Linked DNA regions of Homo sapiens: all the other regions are linked to region 2. Evidence: fine-mapped expression QTL. A gene starts in region 2. Each other region holds a variant in brackets. All regions are shown on one strand. Distances are from middle to middle.

Region 1 (2,689 bases), 200 kb after region 2:
ATCAATATCTAGTTTATTGAGTGTTTTTAGCATGTAGGGGGGTTGAATTTGTTGAAGGCCTTTTCTGCATCTGTTAAGATAATCATGTGGATTTTGTCATTGGTTCTGTTTATGTGATGGATTACGTTTATTGATTTGTGTATGTTGAACCAGCCTTGCATCCCAGGGATGAAGCTGACTTGATCGTGGTGGATAAGCTTTTTAATGTGCTGCTGGATTTGGTTTGCCAGTATTTTATTGAGGATTTTCGCATCGATGTTCATCAGCGATATTGGCCTGAAATTTCCTTTTTTTGTTGTGTCTCTGCCAGGTTTTGGTATCAGGATTATGCTGATGTAGCATCTATGTATCTATCAATACTATACTGTCTTAATCGTGGCATCATAGTAATTCTTCAAATCAGATAGCATTAATCTTCCAGCTGTGTTTTTCATTTTTAAAATAGTCTTAGCTATTCTAGTTTCTTTGCTTTTCCACATAAATTTTGCTCTTCTAGTTTCTTGACCTTTAATAGCTATAGAAAATCCCACTGTGATTTGGTTTGACATTGGATTGAATGTATAAAATGACTTGGGTAAAGATGACTGATGCCTGTTTTTTTTTTTTTTTTTTTTTTTTTTTTTTTGGGAGACAGAGTTTTGCAATTGTTGCCCAGGCAGGAGTGCAATGGCACGATCTCGGCTCACTGTAACCTCTGCCTCCTGGGTTCAAGCAGTTCTCCTGCCTCAGCCTCCTGAGTAGCTGGGATTACAGGCATGTGCCACCACGCCTGGCTAATTTTGTATTTTTAGTAGAGACAGGGTTTCTCCATGTTGGTCAGACTAGTCTCTCACTCCTGACCTCAGGTTGTCTGCCCGCCTTGGCCTCCCAAAGTGCTGGGATTACAGGTGTGAGCCACTGCGCCCAGCTGCAAAGATAACCTTTTTACAATATTTGGGTCTTTCAGTCCATGAACATAGTACATCTCTCCATCTACTTAGGGATTCTTTTTTTTTTTTTGAGACAGAGTCTCACTCTGTTGCCCAGGCTGGAGTGCAGTGGTGCGATCTTGGCTCACTGCAAGCTCCGCCTTCTGGGTTCATGCCATTCTCCTGCCTCAGCCTCCCGAGTAACTGGGACTACAGGAGCCTGCCACAATGCCTGGCTAATATTTTGTATTTTTAGTAGAGATGGGGTTTCACTGTGTTAGCCAGGATGGTCTCGATCTCCTGACCTCATGATCTGCCTGCCTCAGCCTCCCAAAGTGCTGGGATTACAGGCATGAGCCACCACGCCTGGCCTATTTAGGGATTCTTTGATTTCTTTCTTTGGTGTTTTGTGGTTTTTGGCATACAGTTCCTACACCTGTATTGTTAGATTTATACCTAAATATTTATTCCCTTTTTTTTT[TC/C]TTTCCCTTATTGGTGCTAATATGAATGGTACAGCTAATAATTAAATACTAAGTTTTTATTACTTTCATTCTTGGCTTTCTGAAGGTGTTTTCCTATCATTTAAGGTCTTTAGCAAGTAAAAGATTGTTTCTTGATGTTTGTCCTTTGAGTCATCATCTGTTTATGATTTCACAGCCCTTGCACCATTTTGTAATTATGATGTCAAAGCAAGTAGCTTCAAAGGATACATCTGGAGGATCGGAAAAGTGCTGTTCTCTGGATAGGTGGGTTAGATTTGAGACAGAATCCATGTTTCTTTCCTTGAGTGTCATAGGTGTTTTAGAATTTCTTTTGTTTTGCCTATGAGAATATCATTTAATTTCTTTTACTTCAGAAAATCTAGTTTGAAGTATGGATATTAACTTTTAGCTTGATATAAATGAGGCTCTGTAGTAGGCATTCCAGGAAAAGTGGATGTTTTCTGGCTCTTTTCTCTTAGATGACTAAACAAGAAAACATTTTCTGGGAAAAGAAGAGCAGCTGGTACTCTCATTATATTTCCTTCAGTGGTTCTGTACCATCTCCTGTTCATGTTTTATTGTTGTATACCTTACACACTAGCCAAGTAGAGAGAAGGTATTGTGTTGAATACTTTAATGCTGATCATCCCGTTTAGATCTTGTGACAACTGGGTAAATTACACGTGACAACACTGAGCTTCAGAGTCACCTGACCAAGGTTCTATGACTGCCTGGAGGACATGACTTGAACATAAGCCCTCTACCACAGAGTCCCTGGCCTTTCCCACTCAGCCCCATGACAATAAAATTGGAGAAGACTCTTAGAAGGCAAACTTTTTGGGAGGATAGGATACCTTTGCAAGTCTGCTGAAAGCTCCAGGAACTGTCTCCAAAAAAATGTTTATGTGGGTTTCCTTAAAAAGTTCTATAGACATTATAGGTTTTCACAGAACCCCTTCTGTGGTCTCTGGATCATAGGCTAAAAATCCATATTTAAGATCTTTTCTTCACTTGCTGTTTTTTTCACCATTATTAAGAATTACCCAAGTACTGTATACCTCTTCTATGATACCAGGGAGCAAATTTCACACTACCTATTGTGGGTGCTTGTGTGTGAGCAACTGGTAAAAGCCAGAGGCTCCTCCCTCTATTCTCTTCATTCATTTTTTAATGCTCTGTGCTGTGTACTGGGGATTCAGCTGTGAATAAAGCACTATCCCTGTCCTCAAGGACTTCATGGTCTGGTGCATTTCGGAAATGGTCATTTTTGGAATGGCTAAAGTATGTTCGTGTGATAGG
Region 2 (2,689 bases):
GGGTAGGGTGGGGAGGCACTCCATGCATTTATAAGAACTAAAATGGCAGAAGTGATGAATGGCATTTCGGGACAGAAAATTGGAAAAAAAAAAAAAAAAAGGAAAAAAAGCCTAATATTAAAAATGTCTTTGGACTTGTGGCCAAAGGTGCCACCTTAAAGCATGACTATGTCACAGGTGTCTGGAATGATTCAGTCTGGACACTAATCTTGGCTTCTTCACTCGTTGCTAGTTATGTGACCTTGGGAATGTGGCTCAGTTTCCTCTTTGTAAATTAGGGAGATGAACACAGGATTATTGTGAGGATTGGCACTAATGATGTACGGAAATACTGTGTCTGATGCAGAAAGGGCACTCACCCGCTCATTAAAGGGTGGCTAATGGTAGCTGTGATTATTGCTTCCTTTATGATCCCTCTGGCCCTAGAGGGGATGAAATTGAGGTGTTCATGGAAGTGAATCCCAAGGGGGAGCAGGGGTAGGTAGCAGGCTGGTGATCTCGGCTCTCAAATCCTTTCATTTGCATTGAGTTAATCTCTATCAGGGACTGTTGTGTTAACAGGAGGCTTCGATGTTGGAGTTCCCAAAACGGCTGATAAAGGGAGGCAGAGGTCCTCAGCGGGAGGGCAGAGCTGAGCCACCACGTGGGTCCACGAAGCCCCCAGGTGGCTTTCCTGTAGGTATGTGGGGTCTCCTTCAAGCTCTAAGGGGAAAGGAAGAGGAAAGGCCTTCAGATGGGGAAGTGGACGGTGTGATGGAGAAGAGGTTCTGCACGGAACTTACTGGAAGGTGCGGGATGTTAAAGGGAAAACGTGTTTTCATGGAGGCCTGGGCGGGGGATTAGCTCTCCGTTAGAGAGGCTGGGTGGGAGGCCTCCAATGGGAGGATTGGTGGCGGTTTCATCGGGAGGGCTTGGGGTCTCCATGAGAGGATTAGGGTCTCTTCAGGGCGGCTGTGAGTGGAGGTTTCCAGCGGGGCGCAGTGGGGTGCAGATGTGTAAGGGCCTGCAACGGAACGCCAGAGTCCTCCGGGGCCCGCGCCCTGGGAGACGTGCGGGTGACCGCGCTCCCGCCCCGCCCCCACCGGCCACGGCCCCGCCCCCGCGAGCGGACTACACTTCCCAGCAGCCCCAGCGGGCAGCGGCGGCGGCAGCGCGGGCGGGAGGGGCGGTGGTGAGAGGCGGAGGGGGCGGCGCGCGCCGGGCACGCGCGCCGGCGACCATGGCGTTCGCCGGGCTGGAGCGAGTACATTAACCCCTGGAGGCGGCGGCGGCGGCGAGGGAGCGAGCCTCGAGCGGGCGGGCCCCAGCCTGAGGGAAGGGAGGAAGGGGCGGGGAGAGCGCCAGAGGGAGGCCGGTCGGCCGCGGGCGGGCGGGCAGCGCAGCGCCGAGCGGGGCCCGCGGGCCCATGAGGAGGCCTGGGGACCATGGGCTCCAGGATCAAGTGAGTGCGGCCGGGCCGGGCGGAGCCGGGCCGGGCGCGGGGCGGCGAGGCCGGGCCAGGGCTGCAGGCCGCGGGCCGCGCGGGGGACTTGTTGCCGAGACCAGAGGGGCGCCCCGCGTGACGCCGGCACGCGGGGAGGGGGACGGTTGCTATGGCGATCCAGGGAGGCGCGGGGGCGGGGTGCGCGCGGGGTGGCAGGGCGCCGGGGGTCAGGTGTCCCCTCCTCACCTGGGGGTCGGAACAGCTGAGATTACAGGGCGGCCCCCTCCCCGGGTTTACGGAGAGCCCCTGAAAATGGTCCTTCAACTGTGGGGAAGGGGAGTGGGAAAGCCCCGGAAGCACCTCCCCATGTTTGGGCATGTTTGGGGCGCCCCTGAAAGTTGGCAGGTCCGGAGAGGTTGCAGCCTGGCCGCTTGAGGCCTGCGGCCCCCACAGAAGTCGCGTGAGGTTCTTAGAGGGAGGGGCCGCTCATGGTGTGGCCACCTAAGGTGTGGATGGCCGGGGAGGAAGGCCTGTCTCTCTATTTCCCCCCTCTTATCTGTGAAAATCTCCACGCAGCAAGGTCCAAAGGCTGTGAAGGAGGATACCTCTGTGTTGTAACCGAGCACCTGCTCTTGATAATCGTTGGAAAGGCTTTGTAACTCAATCTGGCGAATTCCCTCACTCATTCATTCACCTGGAGTTCCCGGTGGAGGGTTAGCTTTCCGGGGAAATTGTTGATACATGTAACTTCAGAATCCACTGAAACATTGTTGCTGTCCTTGTAGACTTAGAAGTTGACTTTGGAAAGTGCAACTCTTAAGCGGTCCAATTTGGGTGTGTGGCTTTCGACTCTATCTCCCCTCCCAGCCAGGTCCTCTTGTGGCCTCTCCCTTCCTCTGCCCCAGAACTGGAGATGTTTTATCTCTAATTACTAACAAATGTTCACTTTTTCCTCTGTGACTAATAGAATTGTTTAAGGGCATTAAAAAGCAAAGTTGACAGCATAGGCTTTTCTGTAAAACAACTTTCCTAGGACACTTTAAACCCTCTTACAAGAAAGTTTGTGGAATGTGTTTATTTCAGCATTTTGAGAATTGTACTAGGGAAGTTTGAAAGGAGAAGGGCCTTAAGGGTGAAACTAATAATTATTCAAACATTGCATCTCATGTCCAGGTGATGCCCGTGCAGTGTGACCCTTGCCCAGCCTTGCAGTCCCCCGTGTGGTTAGGCTTCTCATTTACAAAATATGTATGAGATGCGCTGCAG
Region 3 (2,689 bases), 530 kb after region 2:
CTATGTAGACATCATCTCATTGGACCCTCACCACAGCCCTGCAAGGAGGCCAATGGAACTATCCTCATCTTGCAGATGAAGAAACCGAGCTTTCCAGGAGCACCCTTCTGATTTGAATAGGCCACAGAATTCCAGTTAATGTGTCTGTCTGCTGCCTATTAGATGGTGATGTTTCTGTGATAGGCTGGGCTTTTGTAGCCTGTAGCTTTGAAAATCCCTAAACGTTTTTTGGGGGGGCCGTTTATCCAAATGTTCAGAATGTACCTGTATGGCTTTTCCAACTCACTCCTTCTTGGGGCTCTCCCCCTGTACCTCCTCTAGGTGCGCCCACCTCGTCCACATGTTGTTAAGAGACCAAAGAGCAACATCGCAGTGGAAGGCCGGAGGACGTCTGTGCCGAGCCCTGAGCAGTGAGTATTGTGCCTCTCCCCTCTGTCTGTAAGAACCCTGTGTCTGCGGAGCCAGCACTTTGCGAAGCCCAAGCGTGTAGCCCCGGCCTTTGTGAGGCTTCCCCGGGGCTCCCAGCGGGTGTTTCACAAAGGGGTCATTCAGGGAACAGGACTTGATCTTTTACTCGGTCTGGTTGTCACACCAGTGGGAGGCCCCAGAGGCCAGGGAGCCGGGCACTTGGGCTGGATTTCGAGGGGTGGGGTCCAAAGCATACTTTGCTGGGTTCAGAAGAAGGTCCTAGGCCTCTTGTGCTGAAGATGCCGAGTCAGTAGGTGAGGGTTAGAACCTGGTGAAGGAGGCCAAGTGTTGAACTGGATCCACCCACCTTCCTAGGCCTCCATGGCCGAGAACCTATATACAGGACTGCCCTCATCCACTGCCCCAGACCCACCAGGACCCTTTGCCCACCTGTGCCGGAGGATTTATGTTACTGTGGTTTTTCTTACCCATCTCCCTGAGACGCGGAGCTCCCTGGGTGTTATGCCCAGCACCTCCCGTAGGACTGGCCTAGAGTCACCTGCTCAGGAGGCGTGGGGTAGATGAAGTGAATGAGGGGGGCAGAAAGACAAGCAGTGGACTGAAGTGGACCTGCCTGTGGTGGGGTGAGGCAGAAGGCTGCAGATAGCCCCGAGTCCAGACCAGAGCCATCTGCAGAAGGTAGCACTGCTTCCCTTTGTCCGCAAAAGGAGCACAGCCCTCAGTCTCTATCCAGACAACTCAGCGGCTACACGCTGACTTCCTGTGATGCCTTGAAAAAGTGCATGAGTTCGTCTTGGTCTAGGATTGTTGGAGGAGTCAGAAAAACTACCCCAGGGATCCTGAAGTCCTTTGGGTGGAAAGGGGGAGGCCCCCATGTCTGTCTGGCTCTCAGAAAATGGGAAAGAAGGTAAGGGACATGGCAGGTCCCAGTCAGAGTTGGAGCAAGAAGGAAAAAAAATGATTTCGAGCTGTCAAGCTGGGGCCTAACCCAAGTTGCAGTTCACTTCAGCTCTCCAGGATTTTCTGGTTGATAGCGAGGGTACGGTCTTTAAGGAACCAGCCCACCCAGACAGCCCTCAGACTTTGCCCAGAAAGTTCCAGAATTATATGTGTGCGTGCGTGTGTGTGTGTGTGTGTG[TGC/C]ACGTGTGCGCTTGCACACAAGGATGCTCAGTTATTAGACATTTGGAAGAGAGGACTCCTGAAGCTGGGTTAAGTTTAACTTTTGCTCTGCACAATAGCCTGGTGGGAACATGAGGGATGGATTATGATTGCCCCCTTATGGAGAGAACGCTGCATGGCACCTGAGTGCCTCGGACTAAAGATTCCTCCTTAAGGGGATGAAATTTGTCACATTTCTTTGAAGTCCCCTCTTTAAAACTGGACTAAACCTTTTAGACACTGTACCAGGATACAGGGTCACAGGCCTGTTGATATTGAGATGTAAACCCAGAATATTCTTGCATTACACAGAAACACCATTGCAACACCAGCTACACTCCACATCCTACAGAAAAGCATTACCCATTTTGCGGCCAAGTTCCCGACGAGAGGCTGGACCTCTTCATCACATTGACTTACGCCGTTGCTTTTCCAGACTGGGCAGAGGGGCTGACTTCGCAGTGTGTGCCAAAGAGCCGGTGTCTGATAATCCCATTTTCCTGCTTATCACCTGAACTGTGTCAGTATCACTTTTAGTTTTGTTGGTTGGTTGGTTTGTTGTTTGTTTAATATGCCCTGTTTTCTACTTCTGTTGGAAAATATTTGGGGTTGAAATAAACCAGTGGGAGCATGGGAGCCAGTTTGGTGGTTGGCAAACTACCAGTGATAGAAAACAAATGACAGGTTTTCTGTGAGCGTACGTCACAGTGGCTCGGGCCCACAAGGAGACAGAGGGGTACGTTTCAGGACATCATTCCAAGGGTTTCTGTTCACGTTTGTTTAACGAGGAAGGGGAAGTTGTTCTCCCATAATACCAGTGGTATTTCTAGTGCAACCCGGGTGTTTTTCTACGCCTCTTCCCATGCTGCTTCCCCACCCCCCCACTGTGCTCCGCCCCTTCCAAATGCCATGTCACAACAGCACTTGGATGTGTTTTTCTCAACTGTCATCAGCTCCAGCTGGCAGGACCAACTTCTTGAAACACAGGAAGCATCCAGCGGAAAATATTTTAATAAAACAGACTCCTCATAAAATATTGTTCGGGGGAGGGGGAAGAAACCGGCTCCACCAATCTGTCGGCATTGTATTGGGAGATGTGAGA
Region 4 (2,689 bases), 54 kb after region 2:
TTCCAAGTAGCTGGGATTACAGGTGCCCACCACCACGTCCGGCTAATTTTTTGTATTTTTAGTAGAGACGGGGTTTCACTATGTTGGCCAGGCTGTCTCGAACTCTTGACCTCGTTATCCGCCTGCCTCAGCCTCCCAAAGTGTTGGGATTACTTACAGGCGTGAGCCACCGCGCCTGGCCCTTATTTTTTAATTAGTATAAGTTTAGGGGTTACAAGAGCAGTTGTGTTACATGCATATATTGCATAGTGGTGAAGTCTGGGCTTTTAGTGTACCCATCACCTGAATAGTGTACATTGTACCCATTAAGTAATTTCTTATCCCTCAGCCCCTCCCACCCTTCTGAGTCTCCAGTGCCTATTATTCCACACTCTATGACCACGTGTACACATCATTTAGTTCCCACTTATAGGTGAGAACATGCTGTATTTGACTTTCTATTTCACTTAAAAGAATGGCCTCCAGTTCCATCCATGGAACTGCAAAAGACATTATTTCATTCTTTTTTATGGCTGAGTAGTATTCCACATTTTCTTTATCCAATTGCCCATTGGTGGACACTTATATTGATTCTGTATCTTTGCTATTGTAAATAGTGCTTCTATAAAAATATGAATGCAGTTATCTTTTTAATATGATTTATTTTCCTTTGGGTATATACTCGGTAATGGGATTGCTGGATCGAATGAATTGTTTTGAGACTATTTTAAGAGTTACAAGGACAGTCCAGTGCGTATGCTCTTTCCTTAGATTTGTCAATTGTTATTATTTTGCTGCATTTGCTTTATCACCCCCCCAATACATACACAGCACATATGTGTGCATGTGAGTATACACACACAGAATTATTGCTGGATCATTTAAGAGTGAGTTGCAGACATTATGACCCTTCACCCCTGCATATCCAGGAGATATTCTGGATATATCTCCTAAGAATAAAGACATATTCTTATATACCCCTAGTATAATGGTTGAAATCAGAAAATTTAATATTGATATAATGTCAGTTGTCCATATTTAAATTTAATCAATTGTTATATCATGTCCTTTACAGCATTTTCCCTATGACCCAGAATCCAATCCGGAATCATGCAGTCCATTTAGTTTTCATGTCAGTTTACTTCCTTTCAGCCTAGAATAATTTTTACAGCCTTTCTTTGTCTTTTTTGACATGTTTTTGAAGAATTTGGGTCTGTTGTTTTGTAGAAAGTTCCTGGATTTGTATCTGTCTGATTGGATCTTCATGATTAGATGCAGGTTATTGGTTTTTGGTAAAAGTATCTCAAAAGTGTTATGTATTTTTCAGTGCATCCAGTAAGCAGACCATGATATCTGTCCTGTTATTTGTGAAAAAGTACATAAAACATATGTATAGTTTAACAAATAAGTATAAATTGAGTAACCATGTTATTATGATCCAGGTTAAGAAATATAATGTTATCCAGTTCTTCAGAAATACTGGTCCTGGCAAGAGGGACCCCTGCCTTGGCCTGATGCTTTAGAAGGATCTGCTTTGTCCCTCCTCTACCA[G/A]TGCCCTTTCCACAGGGCAAGGAGTCTCTGGGGCCTACGGAACATGGTCACTTGGAGACTAAACCCTTCCATCCTAGACCATGCTTTGAGCACCCAGCATCTCAGAACTTCTTGCCCAAATGGCCTTGAGCTTGTTTCTGGAGCCTGTGTGAGTCTCTCCCCTGGGGTCTGTCCTCCTGGGAGTGGACTATGCTACTGGTGTATACATCCCTAGGTCTAAGGGTGGCCTAAGGATAGCTGTCAGTGGGGAATAGGGTATGGGATAGAGCTTGCAGTACAGGATGGAGAGGGGGCTGTGGGCAGTGAGCCAATGGCCAATTTGCCCTGCACCACTGCTTTTCTCCATGGAATGCAAAATACAAAAACACAATATGAACCTGGCCTTCTAGTCAGTTGTAAAGGTATATTTATTATGGCAGGAGGATAGAAAATATTTAATAGTTTGTATGCTTGTTTTAAAACTTTTAAATATTTAAATATTCAGATGTATGGTCTGTAGGTCTCTATTTGAACCCTTGCCTAAGCCCTGTAAATGTTACAGGTGGGTTTGCCCAGCACCCCAGAGGCCCCTCCCTCCCTGCCTTCAGAGGTAACTACTATCCTGACTTTTATGATAATCATCTCTTTGTTTTTCTTCATAGTTTTGCTACATAAGTATACCTCATTGAAAAAATATAATTGAATTGTGCCGCCTTCTGAATTTTATAGAAATGGAATTATTCTGTATGTAGCTCTGCTGCTTTTTTGCTCAATTATGTTTGAAAGGGTCTTCCGTGTTGTGTGTAACTGCAGTCATAGATTTTCATTGCTGTGTAGTGTACTATAGAATTATTTCAGAATTTAGTTATCCATTCTACTGTTGACCTTTGAAGTTGTTCGCAGTTTTTGGCTACTATAAGCCATGCTACTGTGACCTTTCCTACGTATGAATCCTGGCACATGTAAACATACATTTCCATATAGAACATACTTGATTACTGAATCATGCCATACTTTTACAAAATGGATTGTGCCAGTCTGTACTCCCACCTGCAGTGTTTGGTAGTCTACACTTACTGCTCTACAACTTCATCAGCCCTTGGTACAGTTAGATTTGACTTTTGCCAACCTGATGGTTATATAGTAGTATCTCCTTGTTGTTTTTTATTTGCTTTTTGTT

Alleles and levels. Alleles are on the strand shown, and positions count from the first base shown. SD is a standard deviation of normalised expression in the study named. Not every link is listed here.
As copies of TGC replace C in region 3, the expression in monocytes of the gene that starts at base 1,204 in region 2 goes up (moderate effect, 0.55 SD a copy in Fairfax 2014).

What was found.
Region 1: its variant is fine-mapped to the expression of DENND1A in whole blood (INTERVAL, PIP above 0.99).
Region 3: its variant is fine-mapped to the expression of DENND1A in monocytes (Fairfax 2014, PIP 0.95). The same link has a PIP of 0.9 or more in monocytes after interferon gamma.
Region 4: its variant is fine-mapped to the expression of DENND1A in whole blood (INTERVAL, PIP above 0.99).

What each region holds. Positions count from the first base shown.
Region 1 is chr9:123,726,416-123,729,104 of GRCh38, reverse strand. The region is part of intron 5 of DENND1A (DENN domain containing 1A); the gene reads left to right. Among named protein-coding and RNA genes, the nearest start is that of DENND1A, 200 kb to the left of the region's middle. The variant TC/C (reference allele first, on the strand shown) is at 1,390.
Region 2 is chr9:123,928,641-123,931,329 of GRCh38, reverse strand. It overlaps DENND1A (DENN domain containing 1A), which reads left to right and starts at 1,204. Exons shown (of 24, transcript NM_001352964.2): 1 at 1,204-1,441. The coding sequence starts at 1,425. RefSeq lists a silencer at 978-1,467 and enhancers at 1,818-2,017, 1,647-2,332, 2,268-2,347.
Region 3 is chr9:123,401,123-123,403,811 of GRCh38, reverse strand. DENND1A (DENN domain containing 1A) reads left to right here. Exons shown (of 24, transcript NM_001352964.2): 21 at 322-410. It overlaps MIR601 (microRNA 601), which reads left to right and starts at 1,209; the gene lies at 1,209-1,287. RefSeq lists an enhancer at 585-1,206. The variant TGC/C (reference allele first, on the strand shown) is at 1,568.
Region 4 is chr9:123,874,697-123,877,385 of GRCh38, reverse strand. The region is part of intron 2 of DENND1A (DENN domain containing 1A); the gene reads left to right. Among named protein-coding and RNA genes, the nearest start is that of DENND1A, 54 kb to the left of the region's middle. The variant G/A (reference allele first, on the strand shown) is at 1,531.